Regions from separate parts of the Homo sapiens genome. Here all the other regions are reported to be linked to region 5. The links are microRNA targets in miRTarBase. Many come from high-throughput screens and were not tested one by one. Region 5 holds a microRNA gene; each other region holds the end of a gene's coding sequence.

Region 1 (5,242 bases), not on the chromosome of region 5:
GTTCAGACGCCAACTCCAAGTTCTAGGCAGTGGTCTTGACCCTCCTCATCTATAAAACGATGTATGACATTTGAAACCATGTGCGTAATGTATCCTGGCACGGGGTAAGCACCCGGGAATTGGAAGCTGTGATTCTTATTTGGGGGTCCCTTCTCTCTTTTGGGGTCATTTGCTTTTTGGGGAACATCATGGTGGAACATTGAACTCCGCGGGCCCCTTGTTTGCGTGAGGATTTTCTCACCTGCCTTCCAGCCCTGATTCTTCTCGACTATGGGCCAGGCTGGGGGACCCTGGGATCGAGAGAACTTTAATGAGTGGGTGCCTCTTTCCCCCAGGGCAGTGCCAAGGAGCTGTCCCCTGCCGCCTTGGAGAAAAGGCGGCGGAGAAAGCAGGAACGGGACCGGAAGAAGAGGAAGCGAAAGGAGCTGCGGGCGAAAGAGAAGGCCAGGAAGGCTGAGGAGGCCACGGAGGCCCAGGAGGTGGTGGAGGCAACCCCAGAGGGGGCCTGCACGGAGCCGCGGGAGCCGCCCGGGCTGATCTTCAATAAGGTGAGCGGGAGCTGGGTCCTTGGGCGGGCTGGGTCGGCTTCAGGCCTCAGCGTTGCCCCTTGTTAGCTTCATGATCTCTCTCCGAACCCCATCATGTCTGTAAGGTGGTGACGGGGACCTCGCAGGTCCCTTAGGGTACTGGCCAAGGCTGGGGCCTAGTGCAGGGCTGGCATGAGCTGATGTCATACCTTCCTCCCAGGTGGAGGTGAGCGAAGACGAGCCGGCCAGCAAGGCGCAGCGCAGAAAAGAGAAGAGGCAGAGGGTGAAGGGGAACCTCACGCCGCTGACCGGGAGGAACTACCGGCAGCTGCTGGAGCGCCTGCAGGCACGGCAGAGCCGGCTGGACGAGCTGCGCGGCCAGGATGAGGGGAAGGCGCAGGAGCTGGAGGCGAAGATGAAGTGGACCAACCTCCTCTACAAGGCGGAGGGCGTGAAGATCCGTGACGACGAACGCCTGCTGCAGGAGGCCCTGAAGCGCAAGGAGAAGCGCAGGGCGCAGCGGCAGCGCCGGTGGGAGAAGCGCACGGCCGGCGTGGTGGAGAAGATGCAGCAGCGCCAGGACCGGCGGCGGCAGAACCTGCGCAGGAAGAAGGCGGCCCGCGCCGAGCGCCGCCTGCTCAGAGCCCGCAAGAAGGGCCGCATCCTGCCGCAGGACCTGGAGCGCGCAGGCCTGGTCTGAGTCTTTCCCACCTGGGGCCGCCGTCTTCCGTCCTAGGAGACTCCAGGACACCCTCTGAGTCCTTGACGCTGGCTCTGTCCCAGGATCTCCACAGACCTCGGCCTCTCCATGTGAGGGGGACACAGTGGTGCTCTGCTGAGTTGTGAGGGCCCAGATCACAGATCCCATGTGAGAAAGAGAGAGTTTCAGCGTCATCCTTGAACGCAGGATCCGGGACCTTCAGACCCAGGGAAAGGGTGAGGGAGACTGGGGCCTGGTCTGCTTTCCCGGGCCTGAAAGCTTCCCCGAGGTTTGCAGGGTCAGGGAGGAGGAACGGTGGGGGTGGGCAGTCACTGCCTGTTCCCCACTGCCTGTGTTCGCAGGAGCCACGGGACAGAAGACGGTGGCCTCTGCTGCCGGGCCACGTTAGTCCGCAGCTCACCCGAACAGAGGACAACCCTGAGGTGTGGCATATGGGCACCTGGCACTGGGAGTCGGGGGAGCACGTCCAGGCGTGGTGCATCCTGGGGCAGAACGCCATGGCTCCTCCCCGCTCTCTTGGCTTCTGCCTGTTGGGGTCTCATTCCTTTCTGTTCCCCAGTGCCCCGGGGCGGCATTTTACTGCTCAGAATTTGGAGGGAGGGAGCAGTACCTTCCCGGAGTCCACGCATGTGAGTTGGGTCAAGTGCATTGGACCTAGGGAAAGAGAAAGAAAGAATAAAAGCTGGAGAGAGAGTGAAGTGAATGCAAGATACAAAGTGGGATGGAAGAATTAAATCCAGAGTTCCAGGCAATCAAAATGAGTGCAGGTTGAAAGAAAACAGGTGAATTTTAGTGGCATATGGATGATAAAGCTGTAAATAAAATTCTTTTGATGAAACTCTCCGGTTATGAGACAAAGACTGTAACTGAACAGGAGCTGGTGTGACTGTTACCAGACAGAGGCAACTGATGAAAAAGCCCTGTGAAAGATAGGATGTGAGGTGAGCATGAGCTTGAGCTGAGAGACAGACACAACAGTATCTGAAAAGAATACATACTCTTTCCATGCATATATGGAACATGGATGGAAACTGACCACCTACTTTGTCCAGAAAAGAAGTCTTAAGATATTTCAAGGAATCAGTGTCGTTATCTGACCGTATCCCAATGTCATTAAAAAAAATTTGAGCTATTTTTTTTTGTTTTTTAGATAGAGTCTTGCTCTGTCACTCAGGCTGGAGTGCAGTGGCATTTCATATTTGGAATTTTTAAAACACACTTATAAATTACCTATGAGTTAAAGAATTCCGAATGGCTATTAGAAATATTTGGGACTAAAGGATAATGAAAATGCTACGTATTAAAATTTGTGGAACAGGGCCTGGCATGGTGGCTCATGCTGTCAATCCCAGCTCTTTGGGAGGCGGGTGGATCACTTGAGATCAGGAGTTCAAGGCTAGCCTGGACAACATGATAAAACCCCATCTCTATTAAAAATAAAAAATTAGCTGGGTGTGGTGGTGCAAACCTGTAGTCCCAGCTGCTTGGGAGGCTGAGGCGGGAGAATCACTTGAACCCAGGAGGTAGAGGCTGCAGTGAGCCAAGATCGAGCCGCTGCACTCCAGCCTGGGTGACAGAGCAAGACTGTCTCAAAAAGAAAAAATTTAAGATTTGTGGAACAGAGCTAAAGCAGCACAAAAAAACATAGCCCCTAAATGTATGTGCATCTACAGATAAATAGTGCCATTTATACACACATACGCTGTATGTCTGTATTTTTAAAGCTAAAGAAAAATAAGCATGCAGCTTAAGTTGGAACAACTCAAAGTAAATGGAAGAAAAATCTCCAAAACTGACTAAAAGTAATAGAAAGCCTGAGTTGTAATCACTGATGAAATTGAGTCAGTAGTTAAGAATGTTCCCCTAGACGGTTTTACAGGGAAGTTCCACGATATAGAGAACAGGTAATTCCAGACGTAGACAAATTCTAACAGAATCAATTGAGAGAACACTTCATTCGTGAACTTAGCTTTGATACCAAAACTAGGTAAGAGAAAGGGAAGTTACCAAATACCTGTGGGCGGCAAGCCACCCAGGCGCCGAGGCAAGAGACAGAGGACACGAGCTGTTCCAGTATAATAAAATATAAAACAAGAATAGTTACAGCAGATATAGATCTTAGATATGATTACATATGAATATCATTAATCATTAGTTTGTAGCAATTACCTTTTATTCCAATATTATAATAATCCTCGCTCTATAATCATAGCCTAGGAAAAACCAGGCCATACAGAGATAGGAGCTGAGGGGACATAGGTGTGACCAGAAGACAAGAGTGCGAGCCTTCTGTTATGCCCGGACAGGGCCACCAGAGGGCTCCTTGGTCTAGCGGTGACGCCAGCGTCTGGGAAGACGCCCGTTGCCAGGTGGACCATGGTCTAGCAGTAGCAAAAAGTATCAAGGAACAACACCCGCTACTTAGCAGACCGGGAAAGGGAGTGTCCCTTTCCCTGGAGGAGTTTAGAGAAGACTCTGCTCTTCCACCTCTTGTGGAGGGCCTGACATCCGGCAGGCCTGCCCGCAGTTATCTGGAGGCCTAACCGTCTCCCTGTGATGCTGTGCTTCAGTGGTCACGCTCCTAGTCCGCCTTCATGTTCCATCCTGTACACCTGGCTCTGCCTTCTAGATAGCAGTAGTAAATTAGTGAAAGTACTAAAAGTCTCTGATATGCAGAAGTAATGGCATAAGCTGTCTTTCTCTCTGTCTCCTCTCTCTCTCTGCCTCGGCTGCCAGGCAGGGAAGGGCACCCTGTCCAGTGGACACGTGATCCACGTGACCTTACCTATCATTGGAGATGACTCACACTCTTTACCCTGCCCCTTTTGCTTTGTATCCAATAAATAACAATGCAGCCAGACATTCGGGGCCACTACCGGTCTCCGAGCATTGGTAGTAGTGGTCTCCCGGGCCCAGCTGCCTTTTCTTTTATCTCTTTGTCTTGTGTGTGTATTTCTACACTCTCTCATTGCTGCACACAGGGAGGGAGAGACCCACGGACCCTGTGGGGCTGGTCCCTACAAATACCAATGTCAAGATTTTAGACAATAATAAACCAAGTTTAGCAAAGTGCCACACTGGATTTAATTCAGAATTGCAAAGCAGTTTCAATGCCAGAGAATCAAGAGTGTAATTCATATCAATAGATTAAAGGAGCAAAACCCACGTGACCATCTCAATGGTTGCAGAACAGGAACACAGTAAATGACGCGACAGCCATTTATAACGAGTTTTTAGCAAACTAGGAATTAAGGTATTTCCTTACTCTGATAAGGGGATTTGGAGCCAGGCATGGACCCATCTTGAAACTACATTCTGGGTCAGGCAAATGTAGATGTATTGGAGGGAAAGACATCCCCATGGGTTCCCAAGAGGTGAAGTCATCATAGTGAACTAAGGGGCCAGTGAGGGTCTGGAAAAGGCCACTGCCATCACCTGGCTACAGAGACTGAAGAGGCGGGGGGGGGTCTCGTCCTGAGCAGAGACAGGACAACTGGGTGGGCCAGTGAGGGCTGCAGGTGGGGGAAGCTGAGAACCCAGCAATATTTTACTGCCACTGGATGTCTGCACAAGGAACCTATGCCAGCCAGGGAGGTTGAGAGTGAGGCTCAGTGGGGACTGGCATACTGGCTGAGTGGATGCAGTCATTGAGCAACGCATGTCATGCATGGCGTGGGCCATCACTCTGCTGGGTGAAAGTTTCAGGAGCGAATGAGACCCAGCCCTAGCTCTCAAGGAACCCATAGTCTCATAGGTAGTGGTCCTGCAAAGTGGCCAGGGAAAGGATCGGGGTGCAGGGTGCTGAAGTCACATGGAAAGTTGTGAACGTTGCCGGTACCAAAATGGAGTCACTTATGTCAAACTAAAACAGTTGGAGGTGATGAAGCAGCCCTCACGCACACATTCCTGCAACAGGACTTACCACAAGACATTTCTACAAACAGACCAATAACAGGACTCACTGCAAGACCATCCTCAACGGTTGCAGTATTCC
Region 2 (5,242 bases), not on the chromosome of region 5:
TCCACTTTTTATCCCTCACCCTTGGGTTTCCTTCATGTAACTTTTCATTTACACGACCTTGTACCCTAGCTTTTCTTGTTAGTCGCTTTAAGTCCCATAAGTAAACGACAGATACTCCCCAGCCCAACTGCCTACAGAGGTGGGGTGGCCGGCCACCTCTTCAGTTGATTCCTTTAATAGGAGAATGTCAAGCCTGCATGGATCAACCTCTAATTCAAACAAACCATCAGGGGGAGAAAAAAATTAGACAACTGAATTTAAACACTGAATATTTATTTGATAAGTTTGTATCAAAGTTGTTTAGGTGTGACAGTGGTAAAGTGGTTTTCTTTTTTGTTGTTGTTTTGAAACAGAGTCTCACTGTCACCCAGGATGGAGTGCAGTGGCGCAATCTTGGCTCACCACAACCTCCACCTCCCGGGTTCACGCCATTCTCCTGCCTCAGCCTCCCGAATAGCTGGGACTACAGGCGCACACCACCATGCCCGGCTAATTTTTGTATTTTTAGTAGAGACGGGGTTTCACTATGTTGGCCAGGCTGGTGTCAAACTCCTGACCTCGTGATCCACCCGCCTTGGCCTCCCAAAGTGCTGGGATTATAGGCATGAGCCACCGCGCCTGGCCATGATTATGTTTTCTAAAACAGTTATCTTTTAGATATATATGCTGAAATATTCACAGCTAAGTCTGCGATGGCCAAATCTGACAGTAGACAGAGGGATATAATTTTCTCCCAGGGAGGAATAACAAATATTTTTGAACTACATAGGCTGCCACACTCATACCCCGCTCCCCTGGGAGTGAAACCAGTAATCAGCATTTTAAATGGAAGCACCCAAGCACCCCAAGACTGATGCAGGTGGTCCTCAGATCTCACTTTGAAAAACTCTGCCATATAAATGATACTTTCTGGACTCAACTCCAGAAAGACTGCTTACTTTGAGAGACTGGGTCATTTTCTTAGGACTCCATGTATCTCTTGCTCTTATTTCTTTTTTTTTTGTCTTTTTTTTTTTTTTTTGAGACGGAGTCTCGCTCTGTCGCCCAGGCTGGAGTGCAGTGGCGGGATCTCGGCTCACTGCAAGCTCCGCCTCCCGGGTTCACGCCATTCTCCTGCCTCAGCCTCCCAAGTAGCTGGGACTACAGGCGCCCGCCACTACGCCCGGCTAATTTTTTGTATTTTTAGTAGAGACGGGGTTTCACCGTTTTAGCCGGGATGGTCTCGATCTCCTGACCTCGTGATCCGCCCGCCTCGGCCTCCCAAAGTGCTGGGATTACAGGCGTGAGCCACCGCGCCCGGCCTTTTTTCTTCTTCTTCTTTTTTTTTTTTTTTTTTTTTTTTTTTGAGACGGAGTCTCACTCTTTCGCCCAAGCTGGACTGCAGTGGCGCTATCCCGGCTCACTGCAAGCTCCGCCTCTTGGGTTCATGCCATTCTCCTGCCTCAGCCTCCCGAGTAGCTGGGACTACAGGCGCCCACCACCACGCCCGGCTAATTTTTTGTATTTTTTTAGTAGAGACGGGGTTTCACCGTGTTAGCCAGGATGGTCTCGATCTCCTGACCTCGTGATCCGCCCGCCTCGGCCTCCCAAAGTGCTGGGATTACAGGCGTGAGCCACCGCGCCCGGCTCTTGCTCTTATTTCTAATTGTTGGCCACACTTTCAGAGAATAATGGTTTTGAGTCCTGCTCCACAAAAAGAGCACTCTGTGGTAGGTAGTTTGTGGTAAGCCATATACCTGCCCTGCTCTGAGAAATTCACTGTGATCATTACTTCAGAGTTCTGAGTAGTCCTGCATTAAAGAACTTTGTTTACATTTCTTTGGCCCAGTTTCTCACACTAAACACAGAACCTTTGTTATGTCATCCTATTAACAGTTCCATAGAACATTCAGTTAAAATTTCAAACTAAATTAAAATACATTATCACAGGCTGAATGCAGTAGCTCATGCCTGTAATCCCGGCACTTTGAGGGGCTGAGGCAAGAGGATCACTTGAGCCCAGGAGTTTAAGAGCAGCCTAGGCACCATAGTGAGACCCTGCCTTTACAAAAAAATAGTGAGCTGTGATTGTGCCACTGCACTCCAGCCTGAGCAATAGAACGAGACTGCTTCAAAAACAAACAAAAAGAAGTATCACAGATTAGGACTTTGTACTTACTTTTTTTTGTTGTACTTTGCTTTTTTTGCTGTTTTGTTTTTGTTTTGTTTTTTTTGAGACAGAGTTTGGCTCTTGTTGCCCAGGCTGGAGTGCAATAGCGTGATCTCGGCTCACCACAACCTCCGCCTCCCAGGTTCAAGCAATTCTCCTGCCTCAGCCTCCCGAGTAGCTAGGATTAGGGGCATGCACCACCACACCCAGCTAATTTTGTATTTTTAATAGAGACAGGGTTTCTCCATGTTGAGGCTGGTCTCAAACTGCTGACCTCAGGTGATCCGCCCACCTCAGCCTCCCAAAGTGCTGGGATTACAGGCGTGAACCACCGCGCCCAGCCTGTACTTAACGTTTGTTAATGAGGCTGTTTTAGTTTTCCATTCACCATTGCAGTAACTGCCATTTCTCAAGGTACACTCTCTCCTGCTTCCATACTCCGTGTAGAGAAATAGTCATGTAACAGAGTACTGCACTTAGAATCTAGAAACCTGTGTTTAAATTCTTGCATCACCATTTACAAGCCATGTCATCTTGAATATGCTACTTAATCAGTGCCTCAGTTTCATCTGAAAATTGGAAATAACAGCTACCTAACCTGCATAGCTCTCTGCTACATTGCTGCAAAGATCAAAGATGGCATATATGAAGTGACTTAAGTCTGTAAGATGATTTCAAATAACAATATGTTTACTCGAGGCTTAGCTCAGAGTTGTTTCTAAGCAGACATGGATCAATTTCCTTCCTTTCCTTTTCTTTATAGCCACAGATTACAGCACTAACCCAGCAAATAGCCTGACCATCATAAGGAAGTCCTGGCACACGCGTGAGTGTAGGGACACTCATGATACAAGTGCATCAGCATTTTATGTGGCAGACACCTTCCCCTGTTATAGATCTTTTTTGCTGTAGCTAAGTCAGGAGAGGGAGGAAGGCATCATTTAACTCTCTTCCCTTTTGTCTGTCCATGAGAATGAGACAAAAACAGGATTCCACAGCCATACCAATCCTGATTAGAAGGATGTAGAAACCATTACACTGCCTGCCACTGGACCAGGAAACTGGGATAATTGTCAGTGTCCTCTTTTGCCCCTACTCTGGGATATTAGATGGCTAAATCACTGTCAATACACCCAGCTGATGAAATGAGGCCCATGGGGCCACCAGAGTTAATATTGGGAATGAATATAGGAACATACACTAACGCCTCCTTTGGTAGACAAGCAGAGTACCAGAGTACCAAGGACCTACTGAAATAGCTCAGGCTTTTTCTTCGAAAAGAGAAAAGGCAGAGCATGTGCAAAGGCCTGCTATTTCTGGCCAGTTTCCTCACTTAAACTATAGAGTAACATCAATATTCATGATGCTGAGGAAGGTTAAGTGGATCTATTTTCTCTTCTATAGTTTGGATCATCTACTTCTTCCTCACCCTGACACTATTTAAAAAACCTTCAGATATAGATATCTATATACCTATATCTATTAGGTGCATTAATTTGTGACATACTCCCAGATTTAAAGAGAAAAGTGTCAGAGGGGGGGAAAAAGTACAGAAGCACAAGTTTATATTTATTTAATGCTAAGAACACAGATATTCTAAAGAGATAAACAGAAAGTAGTTTTATTTTTTCTAAATAGGATTTTGATCACAAAAATGCTGGTGATTCAAACCTTTAAAACAGAAGAGCATACAACCTAAGAAAAATGCAAAACAGGCTACAAACCTGTACATCATGTTACTGCACTGAATACTGTAGGCAACTGTAACATAATGGTATTTGTATCTAAACACAGAAAAGGTATAGTAAAAATACAGTATTATAATCTTATGAGACTGCCAACATATACGTGGTCTGTCATTGACCAAAACATCATTATGTAGTGCATGACTATTAAAATTGTGCAAAACAAACCCCTGTATCCATAGTGTTTAAACCATAAAACCAATACCTGGTATATACATGACAAAACAAAGCATGTAAAATAATATGCAGCCTAAAGAATTCAAAGACAACAAAGGTGACAAAGTCAGGTAAAAGAAAGGCAATTAGGGACATAAGATATTTTTTAAAGCAGGAAGCTGATGATGTCCACTGTAAGCCTGGAAGAAACCAGGAGTCTGAACACGGAGCAGTTACTGATAGGAAGGATAAAGTGCTACATCTCTAACAGCAAGCAAATTAACTCTGCTGAAATTGCCAGAATGAAGGCCAAGGTGGTTTTCAGTAAAGAGTGTTCTCCTTGACAGCATAGCCAGCATGTGGTTGAGCCGGGACCTGATACCAGCGAAGTGGAATTGCCGCTCTTTGTTCAAGTTTCTAAGTGAGTCACTCAAGTACAGTTCCAGGTGGGGGGTGCCCAGGTACTTGGGATAGCCAGGATTGTGGAAGTCAGTGGTTCTGATGGAAGCGGGAGAACCAGTGGAGCTTGCCACAGAGCCTTGGGAAGACACAGAGGAGGAAGACTTCAAACTGGAAGATCTCGATACAGACATTTTTGAGACTGGTGACCCTTCTGTAGATTGAGTTCCTCGAGGAAAGAGAATGTTCTCATCCATGTCAGTCTGAGTAGTGGTCGATCTGGACCAAATCGTGGTTTGAGAGCTTGCTATCCTGGTGATGACTGCAGTCTGGGTACCAGCACATGCTGTGGTGATGCTGGTTTGTGTTCCCACCTCACTCACACTCAGCCCTGGCATCTCCTCTCCTGGCTCTGTTTGAGTGGCAGCGTCAATGGCCTTTCTGCTCTGGAGCTCGTCCCTGTGGCTGCTGAAGTAGTCTTCCTCACTAACAGTAGAGGACTCACAGTCATGGGGCTTGCGCTCTGCCTTGCCCTCTGCGGGCATCTCTGGGTCCAGGTCCGCCTTCCTGGGAGTACTTGACAGCCTAGCCAGCCGCATCCGCAGCAGGTTGCCCAGGGTGAGCTCCTTGGACTGTGGTTTTCGGTTGGTGAGGTGATCAAACTTGTTGCTGCTCTGGAAGTGAGACAGGAGTTTGGGGCTGATGGGCTTGGACTGGGCATACAGGATTCGGAACTCCAGATCAAAGTGTTCAACCACTTGGCCAGACAGAATTACCAAGTTACTGCTGTTTA
Region 3 (5,125 bases), not on the chromosome of region 5:
TTTTTAATGTTTTTTTTTTAAACTGAAATTGTTTAGTTGGGCACTACATGTTAATCATATGTATAACTAGAAAACTTGCTAAGAATAAATTTTAGAGAAATAATATGTAATGGTTGTTTACATGTTTAATTGTATATTTCAGTGATATAAAATTTAAGAAACCTTAAGAAATTTTTACATGGATGGCACAAACATGTAAAATACTCTCATGCTTAAAACAAGCTAAGCAACCTGGTTTTCTTTACATAAAGTTTGTTATTCACTTTTTTTTTATTGAAGGTGATACTTACATTCCAGCTCAAATGAGGGTTGAATTGGTTTAGTCTGTGTGTATTGTTCCATGAAGAGAGAGGCTAAGTGATTTTAGCATAGACACCAAAGCTGCTATCCTTGTTTGTCCTTATTGCTTCTTGAAGGAAAATCTTAATTCATCTAAGTTATTATGTATTGCCGTGTCTGTGGTTTATATTAGTAATAAAAAGACAATTGAAAAGAATGAAGAAAATGTATCAAAGTTCATGTGAGATTGACTAAAACTACTGTTTTTACATAGCCTTAAATATGTTTTTTAATCTTAAGCATAAGCATTTGCCCAACCTTACAGAACACTTTTTATATTCTTATAAATATCCCAATTGTTCTTTTTCTTCTAGGGGATGTTCGTCTAACCCCAGAAGACTTTGCTAGAGCTCAGAAGTACTGCAAATATGCTGGCAGTGCTTTGCAGTATGAAGATGTAAGCACTGCTGTCCAGAATCTACAAAAGGCTCTCAAGTTACTGACGACAGGCAGAGAATGAAGCCTTTGTATGACAGACCCATGTATTTTTGGCATGAGGAACTAACAGTCCATTACTCTATCTTCAGCCTATCAGGATCACAGTTTTAAGGAAGACTTGGTTTTGTTGAATATGACAATGAAATCTGTGTGTATCAGATTTTTATTGAAGCATTCATCAGCAGCCTCAACCAGTTTTCATTGTCCATTTACTAGATTCAATCGTCTCTGAGTATATAGGGCTGATGTTAGCAAGACCCTAAAAATGTCCATTGAACCCTGCTTCAAAAAATGAAAACACACCTCTATAAAATGTGTACTGGGAATAAGCTTTGTATTTACATACATTAGGGGAATTTTTTAAAATCTGTAATGTTTGGACAAACAGATGATATTACTTTGCTATAAAATTATAAATGTAACTTTTAATAAAGATAGCCAGAATATTCTAAATTAGAAATTACGTTTTTGTTTCCCTCAAGACATAAAACAAATATAAACATTCTAAACTGCTGGATGAATCTGAAAAGACATTAAGTTCAAATTTTAATTTATTCTCATATTAAATATAACTCCATTAAAAGTTTAAAATTTCATGGGAGAAAATATAATAAGGTAAAGAGGTAGAATCACTTTCAGACTTAAGAATAATGTTGATTTCCCAAGTGCTTTACCTTATCTGTTAAAGCGTAAGATGAATTGGTATTTGCTTCATAGGCAGTTTGACTGCATGTATTAGAGAATGAAAAGAAGATATTTGTAGTAATGCCTGGAAACTTGGTGCTTTAAATTAAGGTACTCCTCTGCTGCTGTAGAATGGATTCCACACAGTGGATAGCTATGGGTGATTCAGAATATTATGTTTAGATTCCCATTTGTTAAGTTTATAAGTTTTGTGGGGAATTATGAACTTACTGTGTACTACCTGCATTTGTGCTGTGTGAAAAATAAATACAAGGATTCGTTTAGCTAATTCAACTTACTACAAAGACAAATGTCTGTTTTTATTTGCCTGCTAGGATTGTCTTTTTTAAAAGTCATTTTTATTTATAGGAATATGGGTGTTTCTATAGGAAGAAACAGGTTTTTTGTTTTTTGTTTTTTAAGATAAATTTGACAAAGTTAACTGAAATTTATCTGGTCCATTTTATTCATGCTACTAAGATGGGAATCTTTAAACACAAGGGTCAGCAAGCTTTGGCCCATGGATTGGCCACCTGTTACGTAAATAAAGTTTCTTTGAAACAAGCCTACACTCATTCATTTATGTTTTGTCTGTGGTTGCTTTCCACAACTGCAGAGTTGTATGGCTTGCAAGTCTAAAAACATTTACTATTTGGCCCTCTAAGAAAAAGTTAAGACACCTAGTCTAATGGCCTTTTGGGAAAAAACAAATCACTAACTCATAATCATTTATATCCATTATTTTCTGCATAAATGTAATGCTATTGTACAGGGTTTGGTAGAATAAATATTCAGACTGACTAAACTGTTCTAAATCCTCACAAAAAAGTCCCCAAACAACATGCCTCCTAAAAAACATTTTCCTATCTTTTACAAGAGGTATGAACATTTGTAGGGTTCCACATTTGCATCTAGAAATCCAATGCTCTTTAGAATGTTATTACGAATAGAAAGATGGCCAGGATGACCTTTAGTGTTACATGATGTTCAGCAAATTTTAATTCAAACCTTGATATGCCTGGACACTGAAAAGTAAACGCATCACCTCCTATTTTATACCCTACCTTCTGGTTCCCAATTGGGAGAGCACATAGAGGGAAGGAGACAATATAGAAACTACGGAGTCCGCTGGTAGTGGGCTGCATGGTGTGACAGAGCCCTTCTCTGTAAAATGGAAATGACACCACTAGCCATCTCAATAGTTACAAGAATTAAAAGAGATACAGTACCTGAAGTGCTTAGCGCATGGTAGCATTTCATAAATGTTTAGTGTCAATACTAATGCTCTAATAATGTAAATTGTTAATAATTTATTTCCCTAATATCAGGAAATCCCAGTTGTCTATGTGGCCCAGTGCTTAAAAACGCCTTCTTGCATGAGGGGATTGAACTATACAATGTTTGTTAACTTTGTATTTGTATTTTTTCCTATAAAATCTTAAAATAAAATTAGGAGATGTGTTCTGATGTAACAGTAGGATTAGCAATTTTCATTTATTCCTTCCATATATATTTACTGAATGGCTACTATATGCCTGGTATTGTTCTTTGAAAGCAGAAACAGCAGGAAAAAAAGTCCCTCCCTCATAGAGTTTACATTCTAAAAGGGAGGAAATAGATAATAAAATATACATTACATTTAATCAGTGGCTCTCCGAGTGTGATTAGAAATACAAATTTTGGGCCCCACCTGTCCTACCCAATCAGAAACTCTAGGGATGGGTCCCAGCCTTCTGAGTTTTAAGAGACACTTAAGGTGGTCCCTAAAGTTCGAGTGGTTTAGCTCTACCCAAATCAGAAATATTGCAAGTCTGAGAAAAGAGATTCTCCTCAAACCGGTTCTCAAAGGTGTCTCTGGACGACCGGCATCAGCATCACCTGCGAACTTGCTAGAAAGTTCTGGGGACCACACTATGGGAACTTCTGTATTAAATAGTGATAAATGCTATGGAGGAAACATTGAGGACAGGATAGGAGATGCTTAGGTGTGTACAGACATATGCATATTTCAATAGAATAGCCAGGATAGACCTCCCTGAGGTAACATTTGAGCAAAGAAGGAAAAGAGTAACTAGTATGCAGATACATACATGGAGGAAGAGCATTCCCAACAGGTAGACAGAAATCAGGTCAGAGGGTAAAAGCAGGAGAAAGGCTGGTGAGGGAGCTAAAAGCTTAGGATCATAAAGCTTTTTTGTAAGACACTTGACTGGGAGCTATATGGAAAGGTTTTCAGAAGAAACGTAGCCTGATGTGACTTAACTTTTGAAATAATCATATTGGCTCCTATGTTGAGAATAGACCGTAAGGTGGGTGGTAAGTAAGGGAGGAAGCTGGGAGACCAGTTAAAAAGAGTATTAACAATAGGCCGGGGGCGGTGGTTCGCACCTGCAATCCCAGCACTTTGGGAGCCAAGGCAGGCGGATCATCTGAGGTCAGGAGTATATATTTATTAATATATAAATATGTATTTATATATAAATCATAAATATATTAATAAATATATAATATATATATTAGCCTGGCATGGTGGCACATACCTCTAATCTCAGCTACTGAAGAGGCTGAGGCAGGAGAATCGCTTGAACCCAGGAGGCGGAGGTTGCAGTGAGCCGAGATCGTGCCACTGCACTCCAGCCTGGGCGACAGAGCGAGACTCCTTCTCAAAAAAAAAAAAAGTATTACAATAATCAAGGTGAGATATTATGATGTCTTAGTCCAGGAGTAGCCTTGGAGGTAATAAAACGGGATTGGTTTCTGGCGGCTTTTTTTTAGGTAGAGCCACAGGATTTCTGTAAACTGGATGTGAGGTACGAACATAAGAGAAGGAGTAAAGGTTGACTCCAGATTTTTCACCTGAATGCCTGAAAGGAATGAGTAATCATGTACTGCAGTAGGGAAAGTTGCCGAATTCCTCTCTCACTTAGACTGAAGTACAATGTTTCCAAGTTTTTGTGACCAGCCCAAGTGAAACTGATAACGGTGTTTTGTCAATGCGGCAGAGGGAGAAGAAGAAATAAGGTTCTGCTGACAATGATTGCCACAGATATCTCACCAAATCACTGCTGAACTGGAGCTGCAAGCCAAGAATAGTTCCCATGGTTAGCATGGCCTAGGAAGTTTACTGACATCAGGACTACACCAAGAAAAAGACTCCAGTTATGGGTCTTGAAAATTAATATCCTCAGATGTTTTTAGAATTTATATATGACTTGTAATTCTAGAAATTTGAGAATTCTATGTATGCATTGAAAGATTATATACTGTCTTTTCTAAAGAAACACCCTAATAGCAGCATTGTACAAATATTTTCAACTCTAAAAGAATAATAGCTAATGGAGTTGATGGGTTTTGGTTTTCATATGAGAAGTATCCTTCCCTGGTTGGTTGTAATCTTTGAAGTCTATGTGGAATTCTAAGACTGCAGGCTTGTTCATTGGAGTACACTTAAGTAGGACAAATTCTAAGTAAGCAACACTTCAATAATAATCATAATAGCTAACATTTCAATGTTTACTAAATGTCAGATACTATTCTAAGTATTTTGCATATATTAATTCATTTAATCTTCACAGTGGTCCTGAGAGGTAGGCTTTATTTCTGTTTTAAGATGAGGAAAGGGAGCCACAGAGTAACAAATTTGCCTAAGGTAACACAGCTAATA
Region 4 (5,242 bases), not on the chromosome of region 5:
TCCCAGCACTTTGGGAGGCTAAGGCAGTTGGATCACCTGAAGTTGAGAGTTCAAGACCAGCTTGGCCAACATGGTGAAACCTTGTCTCTACTAAAAATACAAAAATTAGCCAGGCGTGGTGGCAGGTGCCTGTAATCCCAGGTACTGGGGAGCCTGAGGCAGGAGAATCGTTTGAACCTGGAGGCAGAGGTTGCAGTGAGCCGAGATTGCACCACTGCACTCCAGCCTGGGCAACAAGAGCAAACATCTCAAAAAAAAGACATGAGAAATTTTCTTAGGCAGACTACGTAGAATACCTCAAGTTTATTTTTATTCAGTGCCAAAATAAAAGTTAATCTTTGTTGCCATCTCCCAGAACATTTGCTAGACTGTACTATGAGCTTTTAAAACTAGTCATGGGAGGCCAGGTGCAGTGGCTCACGCCTGTAATCCCAGCAGTTTGGGAGGCCAAGGCAGGTGGGTCTCTTGAGGTCAGGAATTCAAGACTAGCCTGGCTGACATGGCAAAACCCCATTTCTACTAAAAATATTTTTTTAAAAAGTAGCCAGGCATGGTGGCAGGCGCCTGTAATCCCAGCTACTTGGGAGGCTGAGGCAGGAAAATTGCTTGAACCCAGAAGGCAGAGGTTGCAGTGGGTCGAGATTGCACCACTGCACTCCAGCCTGGGTGACAGAGCAAGGCTCCATCCCAGAAAAAAAAAAGTCACTGAATGAATTCCCCTGCCTGATGGCAAAATTAAATTAAAGACTGTTTGGCTGTGAGGTTGACACAGTCACCCACAGCCTCTGGGAGGCTGGTGGCTGCAAGGAGGATGGGTGCCTGACAAGGACATGTTACCAGGCGGTCTGGTGCCAGCAAGCACCCACTTGTGCTCTTGTGTAATCTCTAACATGATTCTTTTGTCTTTTGTCTTTGCAGTCCACTGTCATGGATTGAAGAAAAAGGACCTGGTCTAAAACGAAACAGATATTTAAGCTTCCATTTCAAGTCTGGGTCCTTGGAGAATGTGCCAAATGTAGGAGTGAATAAGAACATATTTCTGAAAGATCAAAATATATTTGTCCAGAAACTCTTGGGCCAGTTCTCTGAGAAGGAACTGGCTGCTGAAAAGAAACGCATCCTGCACTGCCTGGGGCTTGCAGAAGAAATCCAGAAATATTGCTGTTCAAGGAAGTAAGAGGAGGAGGTGATGTAGCACTTCCAAGATGGCACCAGCATTTGGTTCTTCTCAAGAGTTGACCATTATCTCTATTCTTAAAATTAAACATGTTGGGGAAACAAGAATCTTATTGTTATGAGCTATGTTGGGATATTTGGGGTTAGGGGCTATGCAGTGGGGACAAGGCGAGAATGAGCGTTGGTTGAGCTGAGCTAAATGCTTTGTATGTCTGATTTCACTTACTCCTCCTAACAGCCCTATGAGATGAGTACTAGCAGGCCTCTTTTTTTTTTTTTTTTTTTTTTGAGAGTCTCACTGTGTCACCCAGGATGGAGTGTAGTGGCACCATCTCGGTTCACTGCAGCTTCCACCTCCTGGGTTCAATCAGTTATCCTGCCTCAGTCTCCCAAGGAGCTGAGGATTACAGGCGCGTGCCTAATCCTGGCTAATTTTTGTAGTTTTAGTAGAGATGAGGTTTCGCCACGTTAGCCAGCCTGGTCTCGCTCGAACTCCCAACCTCAGGTAATCCACCTGCCTCGGCCTCCCAAAGTGCTGGGATTAGAGGCATGAGCCACCATGCCTGGCACCAGGTCTCTTTTCATTGTATACTAGAAAATGTTGTTTGAACAGAACCCTCCGAGATGATAGAGTCACCGCCCTTCTGCTCTCGTGTTCTCAGCTGCCCTATCTACCCTGCAGGTTGCTGCTGCTGCTGGAGCCCACGCAGGTCATGTGCCACTGTGGCATTTCCTAAACACTCCTGCCTCTGAAGGTGGCACCCCATGCCCCAGTCACAATTCTTTCAGAGTGTCACAGAAGGAAAGAATCCACATGTATTCCTCAGCAGTCTGTCCCTCTGTCCAATTTGAAGAAAAAAAAAGCCCTTAATCCCGCTGTACTAATGCTCCTAAGTGTTGAGGGGTCCTTCAGGAGGGCCTTGTGTCTCCAGGCAAGAGTGACCACAGAGGTGCCCTTTGCCCCTCAGCCCCTCTCCCTGTGGCAGCAGTGACCTGCCTGTCTGGTGAAGCTGGAAAAGGGACTAAACACATGACACCCAGCCACCTTCTCCCTCTGAACCGACATCCTTAGGATGCACCCAAGCTTGTCCACGTGGCAGGTGACTAAAGCAGACTCTTCCTCTGCAAGTAGGTGACCTGCAGCTGTGATGAAGAATTGAGTTACCCTAAGACAGGGCAGTTACCCTAAGACAGAGCCTAAGACAGTTACCCTAAGACAGAGCCTAAGAGTTACCCTAAGAGTTTAAGAGCCTAAGACAGAGTTACCCTAAGGTGGAGCCTAAGAGTTATCCTAAGACAGAGTTACCCTGCAGGGAGCCAAAGGCCCGCGGGACGTGACCAACTCAGCATTCCGCTGGAGGCTATATGATCAAACAGCGAACTGTTTATCATGAATGCAGGATGTGGGCAAACTCACACTGCCTTGCCACCAAAATGTTTGCTGAGGGACATCATGCCCTGGCGCCGGGCTCCTGGAAGTTATCTATTGAGAAATCTAGCGCCTATTGTTCACAAGCCCGCTGTGAACCAAACGGCTGACTGACAATTACCCGACAACCATCCTCCCACTTTCTTGCTGTCTCTTTCACCTAATAAATACAGAGGGCTGTGTAAAGCTCACGGCCCTTGTCCACTAGAGGCAAGATGCCCCTTGACCTCTTCTTCCAAATATACTCTTTTGTGTCTTGTCTTTTATTCCCACATTCGCCCCCCTTTGTTCAGTCCCCCGAGGTCCATGCAGGTTACAAGTGGCACCCCAAACAGCAACAGGATCGGGTGCTCTGCATAGTGGCATCCGAACACAGGACTTCGAGGACATGAATGAAGAAAGTCCGCTGGAGCAGAGGAACTGAAATTGACAAGGCGAATGGGGACCCCGAAACGAGTCTGCCAGCAGCAGAGATAAGGTCAGTGCCCTAAAGAGGTACTGATCAGTGCCGTAAAGAGGTACTGGGAGCAGTGCTTTAAAGAAGTACTAGGAACAGGAAGTTTTCTGAATCAGGCTAACAAGGGGAAGAATTTGTCTATTGAAGAAAAACATTATGTGCAGTTGCTTAAAGTTCTGTAGAGACAGTCTGGAGCTTAGGTTAATTCGCAGACACTAACCTCCTGCAGAAGCCACAAAAGGTTATTACGCATAACCCATGGTTCCCACAGGCAGGCATCCTTGATATGGAAAATTGAGACAAAGCAGGAGAAGGATTAAAACAGGCTCATCAAAAAGGTCTTAGCTGATTCTTAGTTGATTCTTCTGTTTTCTCCACTTGGAGTTTAGTTTGTACTGTACTTCTACCATTATCTCCTTATTATTCTGTGGGACAACAGCCTGAATCTAAAAATCTGAAAGAATATGTTGTCCCACCCACAGCTCCAATTGAAAATAAAAAACAGAGAGGATAAAAATTGGCCTATACCGCCTCCTCCAATTGCAGAAACATCTGTACTGCCTCCTTCAGTAGCACAAATAGAAACCCCAATACAAAGAATTTTACGCTCTGCTGTCATAGCTGGAGAGCCCTTAGGACCTTGCGCTGTTCCTGTTTCCATAAGGCCTGATCCCAATAATCCACAGCAGTTTATTCATGAACACACCCCACTAGAATTTCAGTTGTTGAAGGAATTAAAAACTAGTGTGGTCAATAATGGAGTACAAAGCCCATGGTTCCCAGAGGAAAGAACACTAGATGTAGAACTCTGGGAACAAGTGGGGAGAAATCTTAAACAACATCAGGTGCAAAGGCATCAGGTCCCAGTAAAATCTTTAATGTTATGGGCTTTAATTAGAGCAGCCCTGGCTCAGTTACACACAGAAGAGCCTAAAAAGAGGAAGGAGGAGAAAATGTCACCTGCCTTATCACCTCCTCTTCCCTCAGTCCCAATATCACTGGGTCAAAATAACAGGAAACGGAGGTCTCACCTAAGTCTCCTCCTCCAATAGATAGGAAAAAGGACAGAGGATATGCTATAGCCATCAGTGTGTTAGATATGAGTTCTAAATTTCTCTTTAAAGAATCAGTATGTCAGTATGTTCAATTCTTTGCCTTCTACTTGTAAACTTAACTTCCTCATAAAGCAACCTTTTTCGATTACCTGCTCCATCCTGACTCATTCCGATTTCCTGCTCTGCCATAACCATTTTTCCCGCCAAACCACTCACCCTGTCACTCTCTTTAAATTAGCCAGTTGGAGTTAGTTTGGCCTGTGTGGTCTAACCCTAGCCAATAGGGGAATGACACAGCAGCAGGGGCCATGTGCATCAGGGATAAGAACCCTTTCCCCTCCCTTGTCCAGGTGTGCACTCAACCATTGCTCCATCTGTAAGGGCGCACCCTTCTGTAGAAGTACATTGACTTGCTGAGAATTAAAAAGAAAATTTTATATTCAAGTGCTATTTCTTTTGCGGCACCGAAACTTTACTTAAAACAACTTGGGGGCTCGCCTGTGATTACATTCCCCTCCAGGGGTAGTCTCAAGTCCTCTCTCATGAGGAGGCGCGCCCCGCCCCCTTGTGGCAGCCTCAGGGGTGAGAAATTAGGACCCACCCAGTGCAAGGAATAACCCGAGCTCTCAGCAAAGCAAAAAGAAACTGGCCAGCAACCTAGCTGGATCCTCCATAATGGCCTCCCTAACGGCCATGCAAGTCTGTGCACGGACGGAGGAAAAGACACCACGGGAGCCGGTAAAGTATATCCTTGGTGGTCAGGACCAAGGTAAGAAAGCCGCGGGGGGGCAATGAAGTACTCCTTGGTTGGGGTAGCATAGAGGTTAAAAAGAGGCAAGACATCACACAAACCTCCAGTAGTAGAAAAGGCAAGAAATTTCCAGGGGGGAAATTGAGCTCACCCCAAAAGGCAAGAGATTTCCAGTGGGGAAATTGAGCCTCACCCCAAAAGGCAAGAAATTTCCAGTGGGGGAAATTGAGCCTCACCCCAAAAGGCAAGAAATTTCCAGTAAGGGAAATTGAACCTTGAACCTTAACCCAAAACCATCAAGATGGGAAATACCCCAAGCAAGACAGGGAGCAAGATAAATAAAGATGGTAACAAAGATATCATCCTGGATGGCC
Region 5 (5,008 bases):
ACTGGCCAAGGCAATATGAAAACAGGCTTCCTCATACATTACTGGAAGCAGAATATAGTTATGTGCAAGCACTTTGGAAAATGATTCCCAGTGTTAAGGAAGAGACATTAAATAGCTGACACACTCTTAATTCTGTAGTCCCAGTTATGAGTCTCTATCATAAGTAGCCAGCTCTTCATTGCAGGATTATTGTAATCACCCACAGGGGAAATAGTAGAATTTCCAGCGGTAAAAAAATACACTAAGGCAGTACATTTAGTGTAGTGTAATGTAGCCATGATAACTACAATAACTGTGTAGCAACATAGAAAAATGTTAAATTTAAAAAGCAGAAGCCTGGGCAACAAAGTGAGACCCCATCTCTTTTTTTTTTTGAGATGGCGTCTCGCTCTGTCACCGAGGCTGGAGTGCAGTGTGAGACCACATCTCTACAAAAAATTTTAAAAATTAGCTGGGCATGGTAGTGATCACCTGTGGTCCCTGCTACACTGGAGGTTGAAGCAAGAGGATTGCTTGAGCCAGGAAGTCAAATCTGCAGTGAGCCATGTTTGTTTGTTCCGCTTCACTCCAGCCTGGGTAACAGAGTAAGACACTGTCTCAAAATAAAAATAAAATAGACAATACTACATACAATTTTGGGTTAAGCAGTGGTTTCTTTTACACCAAAAGCATAAACATTGGACTTTATTGAAATGAAAAACTTTTGGCCAGGCACATTGGCTCACACCTGTAATCTCAGCACTTTGGGAGGCCACAGTGGGGGATTGCAAGGGGAGATGGGAAATGTTCTAAAACTGGATTATGGTGATAGTTGGGCAACTGTGTAAATTTACTAAAAATTATTGAACTGTACATTTAAAAAGTGTGAGTCTTATGGTATGTAAATTATACCCCATAAAGTTGTTTTTAAAAATGAAGTAAGTCCCTCTGCTCAAGACCCAGTCATCTCATCTCATTCAAAGTGAAAGCCAGAGCTTTACAATCCCTATAAGAGCCTAGGTGGTAGCTCAACACTCTTACCTCCCTCACCCCATTTTCTGTATCTCTTTTCGTTGCCCATCTTCTAGCCACACCAGCCTCTGCTAATCCCCAAACAGGTACCCTCTGTGCTCTTGCTGTTCCCTTGGCCTAGAATGCTCTTCCTTAAGATGCAGGTAAGAATTCCTTCCTCACCTTCTTCAAGCTTTTATTTGAATATCACTTTCTTTTTTTGTTGGTTTTGTGTGTGTGTGTGGGGGGGGGGGGTTTGAGATGGAGTTTCCTTCTGTCGCCCAGGCTGGAGTGCAGTGGCATGATCTCGACTCACTGCAACCTCCGCCTCCGGGGGTCAAGCGATTTTCCTACCCCAGCCTCCTGAGTAGCTGGGATTACAGGCGCACGCCACCATGCCCAGCTAATTGTATTTTTTAGTAGAGACGGGATTTAACCATTTTGGCCAGGCTGGTCTCGAACTCCTGACCTTGTGATCCGCCCGCCTCGGCCTCCCAAAGTGCTGGAATTACAAGCGTGAGCCACCATGCCCGGCCTTTTGTTGTTGCTGTTGTTGTTCTGAGATGGAGCCTTGCCCTGTCGCCCAGGCTGGAGTGCAGTGGCCCGATCTCGGCTCACTGCAACCTCCACCTCCCAGGTTCAAGCGATTCTCCTGCCTCAGCCTCCCGAGTAGCTGGGATTAAGCTGGGATTATAGGCGTGCCCCACCACGCCCGGCTAGTTTTTGTATTTTTAGTAGAGACGGGGTTTCACTGTGTTGGCCAGGCTGGTCTCGAACTCCTGACCTCACGTGATCCGCCCTCCTCGGCCTCCCCAAGTGCTGAGATTACAGGCGTGAGCCACCGCGCCCGCCGCCCCCTGAATTTAGAGAATAGCGGAGCCTCCCCATTCTCTGCGGCCTTGGCTCCTACACTTCCCGTGGTAACCTTGTTCATCCGCTGAAGCCCGCTGCTTTTCCCAGCCCGGCCTCTGGGGGCCGCTGCCGGGCCTGTGAGCCTGTGGACCAGGAGCTCCTGCTGCCGTCGTAGCGTCACGTCCGGTCTCGGGCGGAAGTTTTCCGGCGGCTACCGGGAAGTCGCTGAAGACAGAGCGATGGTAGTTCTGGAGGCCTCGCTCCGGGGCCGACCCGAGGCCACAGTGCCTCCGCGGTAGACCGGACTTGGGTGACGGGCTCCGGGCTCCCGAGGTGAAGAGCATCGGGGGCTGAGGTGGGACCTTAGAAGGGAGTCTGGGAACCCTCACGGCTCTTATTGGAGTCCCTTCCCTGACCCTGGGCTCTAAACTGCCTTTGCTCAGGCTGTCCCGGAAGCAGGTCCTCCCCGTATCATACCATTCCTAGAGGGAACGGCGCAGGTTGGGACTTCCCTCCCTTTACCATCGTCACCAAGGCATGTGGTAACCCCGGGCCGGAGGTCAAGGGCGTCGCTTCTCCCTAATGTTGCCTCTTTTCCACGGCCTCAGGGATGGAAGGGTCTAAGACGTCCAACAACAGCACCATGCAGGTGAGCTTCGTGTGCCAGCGCTGCAGCCAGCCCCTGAAACTGGACACGAGTTTCAAGATCCTGGACCGTGTCACCATCCAGGAACTCACAGGTCAGCGAGACCCTTGGAAAGAGGGTGGTCAAGAATGTGGAAGGTGGGCAGCTTTGGTGATATAATTCTTATGGTGGCTGTGTAGTCTGCCACAAACTCATCGTGTGAACCTAGGAAAGTCACTTCATCTGGCTCCCTGTTTTCTCCTTGGAAACATAAAGCATTCTGACATTGTGGACTTCTGAGAGCTTTCCGACCGGGCGCGGTGGCTCACGCCTGTAATCCCAGCATTTTGGGAGACCGAGGCGGGCAGATCACCTGAGGTCAGGAGTTCGAGACCAGCCTGGCCAACATGGCGAAACCCCTCTCTACTAAAAATACAAAAATTAGCCGGGCGTGATGGCACGTGCCTGTAGTCCCAGCTACTCGGGAGGTTGAGGCAGGAGAATCGCTTGAACCGGTGAGGTGGAGTTTGCAGTGAGCTGAGATCGCACCACTGCACTCCAGCCTGGGCAACAGAGCGAGGCTCCGTCTCAAAAAAAGAGAGCTTTCAGTAGCAAAAGAAAGATCCTTATTTTCTGCTCCTGCTGTTTCAGAGAAAAGGAATATGTATATATAATAATAAATGGTATTTTTTGAGGACTTACTATATAGTAATACCAAGTGCATTACACGTATTACTTCATTTAGTCCCTGTAACAACCCGTACGGGGTATACCGTCATTACATCATTTTTCAGATGAAGAACCGAGGCACAGAGAGGTTAAGTGACTTACCTAAGGTCCAACAGCTGGTAAATGGAGTAGAGTCTTAAAGTCTGAAGAATTTGCTGGATGTGATGGCTCACGCCTGTAATCTCAGTGCTTTGGGAGGCTGAGGTGGGAGGATCGCTTGAGCCCAGGAGTTCAAGACCAACCTGAGCAACCTAGCAGAGATCTTGTCTCTAAAAAAAAAAAAAAATTGCTGGGTGTGGTGGGTGGTGGAGGCTGAGGCAGGAGGATCACTTGAGCCCAGGAGGTCAAAGCTGCAGGAAGCTATGATCATGCCACTGCACTGCAGCTTGGGCAACAGTGCAAGACCCTGTCTCAAAAAATAAATTAATTAAAAAGGCCAGGAGTGGTGGTTCACACCTGTGATCCCAGCACTATGGGAGGCTGAGGCAGGTGGATCACTTGAGCAGGAGTTTGAGACCAGCCTGGGCAACACAGTAAGACCCTGTCTCTATAATTAAAAAAAATAAAAAACCCCAAAATCCCGCAAAGTCAGAAGAATTCAGATTAAGTCAGACAGTAAAAGAGAAGACTGAATAGGCAGCTTAAATAAGCTTATGGGCCTGGAGTCAGCCTGCTTGGGTTTAAATCCTGGCTGTCATTTACTAGCTGAACAACTTTTTGCAAGTTACTTCATTTCTCCAAGCCTTGGTTTCTGATTTTTTCTGTAAAACGTTAAACTGCCTCATAAAGAATTTATAAAGTTCAAATATGACAAACCACAGAAACACTTAGGAATTTGCTGGGCAAATAGTATTCAATAAGTATTAGCTGCTATTATTACCTGGTTTCTCTTTCTTGAGGGGAAATTAGCTCTTTTTTTTGTTTGTTTGTTTGAGACGGAGTCTCACTCTGTTGCCAGGCTGGAGTGCAGTGGCGCGATCTCGGCTCACTGCAACCTCTGCCTCCCGGGTTCAAGTGATTGTCCTGCGTCAGCCTCCTGAGTAGCTGGGACTGCAGGCACACACCGCCACGCCCAGCTAATTTTTGTATTTTTAGTAGAGACGGTTTCACTATGTTGGCCAGGATGGTCTCGATCTCTTGACCTTGTGATCTGCCCGCCTCAGCCTCCCAAAGTGCTGGGACTACAGGCGTGAGCCACCGCGCCTCTTAAACTCTTTTAATAACAATTTTTGACTTTTTATTATGGAAAATTTGAGACATATATAGTCAAGAGAATAGCATAGCCTGCCTTGTATTCATCATCCAGCTTCAATAATCAGCCATATTCTCACATTCTTATGTTGTCTACACCTCCATTCACCTCCCATCCTCTGCTCAATTATTATGTTTTTCACACCTTTTTAGAAAGGTAAATTGTCATGACTTGAAATGTATGAATCTTAGCTGTACATTTTTGACAAATGGATACACTGATGTAATCTGGATCGTTGCAATTTAGCAATGTTTCATCTTCCTAGAAAGTTTCCTTATGTTCCCTCCTTGCTATTCTGGGGGAAACAGGATGTTTGCTTTTGTGATGGAAAATTTCAGAGTATATCATGAACTCCTGTGTACCCATCACCTAGTTGCAACAATTATCAACACATATTTAATCAAGTTTTGTCTACAGCCCCATCCATTCCTTCCCACTCTGAATTGTTTTGAAGCAAATCCCAAACATAAATACTGTAAATATTTCTGTATTTTTGACAGATAAGGATTCTTAAAGATAAATGATACCGGCCGGGCGCGGTGACTCAGCCTGTAATCCCA
Region 6 (5,242 bases), not on the chromosome of region 5:
TCAAGGCAATTATGAAAGGATGAAGTGAAATGAAAATACTGAGATGCAAGCATTATAGCCCTCCTCCAAGTTACCTTTATTTTGTGTGAGGGCTCTAGTATTCTGGTAAATAAACTCTTCCCTGCCCCATGACCACAAAACTTTACTTGGTAAGAATAAACTGTTGGGGGTTTTATCTCTTACTAATTCTCACCACAAATTTCCTCAAATAGTTACTCCCACCAACGTAAAAGTTAAAAATACAATCATACACTGAAACGGCATCAATTATCTTTGCCTTACATCTGAACAAAAAGTATTAACTTTTTTATAGCGTATTACACTTCTTAATAAGCACTTAGTAACAACATTTGTCAGTAAATGAACTGGCATACATCAGAAAAAGTTGACAATAGAAGAATTTTACATGGTACCATTTCAAATTTTCATGTACAAGTAACCCACTTTATGGTCACTAACCTGAACCTCCTAATAAGCTACACAAATAATTTACTCTTTAAAAATTCCTACTTTAGAGCATTTACATTTTATAATTTAATAATGAAAGCAGATTCTTCCAAAACAAAACAAAACCCAAACTGGGAAACATTAAAACACAAATAGATCTAAAAGCTTACTTTAAAAAAACTACAAAAATGGACTAACAAGCCTTACCAGTGTAAACACTAAGGTAAAAAATATATAAACAACATAAAGAAAACACAAAACCATTTTCAGTCATAAATATAGTAAAATGAAAAACCAAATCTCAAGATGCCTGTCAAGATATATTTGACTATATATTTTGACTATATTTCTGAAATCACTAACATGAACTTGACATTGAAAAAATAATCCTTAAATGTATATAAAAATGGGCACTTTGTGGTAAAATGAACATGTGTTTTGAAAAACTAAGAATGTGTCTTTGCTCCACCATTGTGCATAGTCAACGACACAACAAAACACTATTCTGCTGCCTGAATCATCTATTACTGGAGTCTCAAGTGCATGCCTTTTAAAAAAGACTAATTTAGATATTAATATGAGGATCAAAGGATAAGATGATAATCTCAAAGTAAAACATAATTGATTTTTAGCTTCATTATAAGGCTGAACTTTAAAGAGAACAACCTGTGTGGTCAAAAACACTTTTCTAATTTTTAAAACTCAATTTAACGTGTCAAATTATAAAACTGAACGTGAAAAAGATTTGTCTTATCTCACTCCCCTTAATCATATAAGCTCTGAAAATTTAGTAATGGATGACTGGCAGTCTGTTTTGCCACTTTTTAAACAGTAGTACATGAGATATGCTTCAAAACATTCTCAAAAATTACTAACAACTGTAGAGAATAGCCAAGTGTGGAAAACAATATTTGTGATATTTCATGTTCTCTTGTTAGAACTCAACTCTGTACCTGATACTTATATTTGCATACACAGTAATTGCATATTTGATTAAGAAAACTAACATAGGACTAAATTATAAGTTTACCAAACATTTGGATAAACTGCTGTGCAAAATACTTCAACAAAAAGTTTTTTTTACTAGGAACTCATCCAAATAAAGTAGTGTGAGTACCAGCACCACAAAGTTTTTTTTAAGAGCACCTCTCCTTTTTAGAGCTTAAGTAGAAATATCTAAATGGAATAAATCAGAGTCCCACTTAAGACCTTAGCACATGCACACGTTCATCCACTTGTTCCGTACTCATTAGCAAAGCTATGTATATTTGTCAGAAAACTCCTTTCTTTGGATAACACTGTTGTATTCAGGACTGCAACTTATGGCTCATATTCTGGAAATATGCTACTATTGATATCAAATGCAACATATCCCCAACTTTTATGACTGTCCCTAACTCATCTAAACACAAACCCAAATGTGTGCAAACACACTGGCTGGTAACAATCTTACTGAATTACGCCAAAAAAGAGTAAAGTCAAATTTGAAAATGTGGGAACAATTAAGCACTAAGATATTAATCAGGAAATGTATTTACCCAGCTTGTAAGTTTGAATATTTTGATATTGCACACATTTAATTTAAAGCTCATCAAAACTAAGGCAATGCATCCATACTCCCTGGATTTTAAATTCATTTTGCATGACTTAAAGAATTGAGAGAAATCGAAAGCATCTTTCAAAAATTCCCTCCAAAAAGTAATGTTATACTTCAAAGAAAAACAAAATCAACAGATATCAATTAATACCCTCAGGCCAATTTAACACGTCAGCATTACAAAAAGTTGTTTTCAATTAAACTGAAGTGTTTCTTTGCTTAAATACTTTCTTGTGTTCAACAACAAAATCTGACCCAAGCCAGGGTAGGCTGCCAAATTTAAGGCAAATGTCATTTATATCTTTATGCATGAAGCTGCCACGTTACTGGGCTTTTCAGCAGATACTTTCAAGCAAGGATCTACCTCATAAGTACATTCTAAACATGAGTTAAAAACAGAATTTAGAGCCCATTTTAATTCTGCATTGGTTATAGCCTTTACTGTAATACATTATTAAAATTTATCTAGCTGTTTGGCACAATCTGTTAGATAAAAACTCTTTGGAAGCATCATAGGCAACTTACGAGAACATTCTCTTAATACATAGGTTTATTTTTTTTTAATTAGGAGTTTTGCTTTTCTTCTGTAGAACAATCCTATATTTCTCTATAGAGTCTAAAGTTTAGAAAAATACCTCACAATGCTTTCTTTGAGCACTAAGTTCAATGATGGTGATAATACAATTTGGACAGTTTAAGTATTCTTGAAACTTTACCCAAAGTGGCACACAAAATAATCTTACTTTTTTTTTTCAAAGACAGAACAATTTCACAGCACACTCAATTTGAAGATAGACATTATATTTGAATTGGAAGTGAGGCTTGACTTACTCTGTCCAAATTCTAATGCATCACAGTCACTGGTGTGAAGCTAATAATGAAAGAAGCAAGAGGAGGCTTTCATTTCTATGGAGACAAATTGACATAGAAGCCAGATTAGTCTTTTCTTCCTGAACTAAGAACTGCTTTTGTTAGAAAACAAAATAATGTATTGTATTTACCTGAATACTGCTTTAAAAAGTTATTAATTCTTCTTTTACAAGAGGTATTAGAAATTAAAACAACTCAGATTTCTAATCCAAAATATATTTATCTTTGGAAAGCAAGGTAACCGTTGTGAAAACATTGTATTAAGAGAATAAAATGCAGTGACCTGAAATATGGGTGAACATATTCACACATGATAATGTAAATAAATATACAGAACCACTCAAATACACATTTATAAAGAGAATGGCAAAGTACCTAAAATAGCATTTTCACATATAAAATTTTTATATTAAAATATTGCTCATAATAAATAAGAGGTGATATGAATTCCATTTCCCTCTTAAAAATTATCTCTAGTAGTTTACACTAAGGAGTTAATCTGTTGTTTTGACAGGTGAATTAAAATGTTTAATAAAATGACACTGTAACAGTATATTTAAGTAGTCACATGTGATAAAATTTGTTTAGTAATTCTGGGAAAAAAGAGTCCCCAAATGAGCCAAAATGATTAGCCCTAGAAGACTAGAGTATAATGATCTGCTTTATTTGACAAAGATGTTAAATACTGCCTTATGTTTGGCAAATTTAATGACCATAAAAAAACGGACCACAACTTTCTTCAAACTTCTTCAAAGTTTGCATGTCTGGGAGACCAATAAAGGGCAGGGCATACGAAGTAAGTCTGTTTAGGTCAGTTGTTTATGGGTAGGTGCGACTTCATTCCTGTTCGCCCTACTTGCAGACATGGTAACTTAGAACAGTTCTTCAGAAGCTGTTCGATGGCAACGTGGCGGACATGGAGCTGTGAGGCCAAAGAATCTTTTTCTTGCACTTGGTGAGTTAACTCTTCAAAAACTTCTGTAAAAGATTTAAAAACTTTCATTTTTAGTATGCAGAAAGCCGGTGCTATGATTTATATTTCAAGAACTCTAACTGAAATCTATGCATTGGGCAAAGTGTCACAATGAAACTGATTTGATACCAAGGAAACAGTTCTGTTCTCTACAAAGCATATCAGTTCTGATCATCCTAGGCATCTGTATACTTTACATAGCCAAATGGAATTTGGCTCTTCTCCATCAAGTGACTACAGAGATACACAGCAAAAATGGTGGTTGCTACTGTAGCTGAGCTACTTTTCTCAATTAGAATCTATAAACAGATTCAATTAGTACATAATGTGATTTATGGACAAGAAGTGCCTGTTAGTATTCAGGTCTGGAACCCCCTCTAAGAGGCTTTGGAATCAGACTACTAAGAGTTTTGAATCCTTGTTCCTACTCTTACGTGCCTCAGGCAAGCAACTTTTGGTTTCAATTTCCTTTTCTGTGTAACATTAATAATGATAGTAAGCACTTCACCAGGCTACTGTAAAAATTAAATGAGATCATATTTGTAAAGTACTCATAAATTTCTACTACAACTATTATTGTGATTATTTTTATTATTCTGAGAGGCTGTGTGGTTAAGCTTTGGAGTTTAAATCCTTGATCTGCTACTGATTGGATGCATGATCTCTGTAAGCAACTTAACATCTCTGAAGTACAATTTTCTCATCTAAAAGGAAATAAATTGAAAAGGAGACAACTGCGGAATCTGAACATTACTTGTTAGTGTTAGCATTATACTTGATGACGTTAAGGAATTATTAACTTTAAATGGTGTGATAATGAGACTGTGACTGTTTTTTAAAAAGTTATCTCTTTTAGAGGAAATCCTAAACTATTTATGGACAAAAAACAGTGTGTTAGCTAGGATTTGTTTGAAAATAATCCATGCTACTGGTAGTGCAATGGGAATGGATGCAAGTAGAGATACTGATTATTATGCCTTTGCTAACAGTTGAAGCTGGTGAAAATGGCTTAAAGGGTTCACTATACTAGTCTCACTACTTTTATATATGTTTGAAATTGTTTATAATTTAACAAAAAAGACTAATATCACATGCCTTAAAGAACTGTTTGGGAGGACTCCCACATAGTGCCTGGTGCAATAGTGGGTAGTCAATAAAATGTTAGTAAGAGGTGGTAGTTTCCATTTTCACTTAGAAAAGAAAAATGTGGCTGGGCGCAGTGGCTCACACCTGTAATGCCAGCTCTTTGGGAGGCTGAGGCAGGAGGACTGTTTGAGCCCAGGAGCTCGAGATCAGCCTGGGCAACATGATGAAACCCCCTCCCTATAAAAAATAGAAAATTAGCTGGGTGTAAT

The links. Region 5 holds the annotated microRNA hsa-miR-6781-3p (UGCCUCUUUUCCACGGCCUCAG, at 2,429-2,450, shown strand). A microRNA usually pairs through its seed, bases 2 to 8, with sites in the 3' UTR of a target mRNA and lowers its output. Matches are read on the target gene's strand: a 7mer-m8 pairs with bases 2 to 8, a 7mer-A1 pairs with bases 2 to 7 and ends in A, and an 8mer does both.
Region 1: miRTarBase lists SURF6 as a target of hsa-miR-6781-3p. Seed matches in the 3' UTR shown: 7mer-A1 at 2,147-2,153.
Region 2: miRTarBase lists FAM83D as a target of hsa-miR-6781-3p. The part of its 3' UTR that is shown has no 7-base or 8-base seed match.
Region 3: the mRNA of VTA1 is a reported target of hsa-miR-6781-3p. Seed matches in the 3' UTR shown: 7mer-m8 at 4,020-4,026.
Region 4: miRTarBase lists BLVRA as a target of hsa-miR-6781-3p. The part of its 3' UTR that is shown has no 7-base or 8-base seed match.
Region 6: the mRNA of C21orf91 is a reported target of hsa-miR-6781-3p. The part of its 3' UTR that is shown has no 7-base or 8-base seed match.

Annotation. Positions count from the first base shown.
Region 1 is chr9:133,327,854-133,333,095 of GRCh38, reverse strand. SURF6 (surfeit 6) reads left to right here. Exons shown (of 5, transcript NM_006753.6): 4 at 336-548; 5 at 748-4,320. The coding sequence ends at 1,227. Among named protein-coding and RNA genes, the nearest start is that of SURF6, 5.7 kb to the left of the region's middle.
Region 2 is chr20:38,951,562-38,956,803 of GRCh38, reverse strand. FAM83D (family with sequence similarity 83 member D) reads right to left here. Exons shown (of 4, transcript NM_030919.3): 4 at 3,698-5,242. The coding sequence ends at 4,284. Among named protein-coding and RNA genes, the nearest start is that of DHX35, 8.2 kb to the left of the region's middle.
Region 3 is chr6:142,217,845-142,222,969 of GRCh38, forward strand. VTA1 (vesicle trafficking 1) reads left to right here. Exons shown (of 8, transcript NM_016485.5): 8 at 654-5,125. The coding sequence ends at 799. Among named protein-coding and RNA genes, the nearest start is that of LINC02919, 40 kb to the right of the region's middle.
Region 4 is chr7:43,806,059-43,811,300 of GRCh38, forward strand. BLVRA (biliverdin reductase A) reads left to right here. Exons shown (of 8, transcript NM_000712.4): 8 at 919-1,284. The coding sequence ends at 1,177. Among named protein-coding and RNA genes, the nearest start is that of BLVRA, 50 kb to the left of the region's middle. RefSeq lists an enhancer at 4,731-4,830.
Region 5 is chr17:42,821,322-42,826,329 of GRCh38, reverse strand. MIR6781 (microRNA 6781) reads left to right here and starts at 2,387; the gene lies at 2,387-2,450. It overlaps BECN1 (beclin 1), which reads left to right and starts at 2,048. Exons shown (of 12, transcript NM_001313998.2): 1 at 2,048-2,175; 2 at 2,451-2,582. The coding sequence starts at 2,453. RefSeq lists enhancers at 1,119-1,685, 1,690-1,819, 1,686-2,254, 2,255-2,821.
Region 6 is chr21:17,789,690-17,794,931 of GRCh38, forward strand. C21orf91 (chromosome 21 open reading frame 91) reads right to left here. Exons shown (of 5, transcript NM_001100420.2): 5 at 1-3,892. The coding sequence ends at 3,726. It overlaps C21orf91-OT1 (C21orf91 overlapping transcript 1), which reads right to left and starts at 2,820. Exons shown (of 4, transcript NR_038871.1): 1 at 2,788-2,820. The region is part of intron 2 of LOC124900465 (a long non-coding RNA gene); the gene reads left to right. RefSeq lists an enhancer at 4,271-4,440.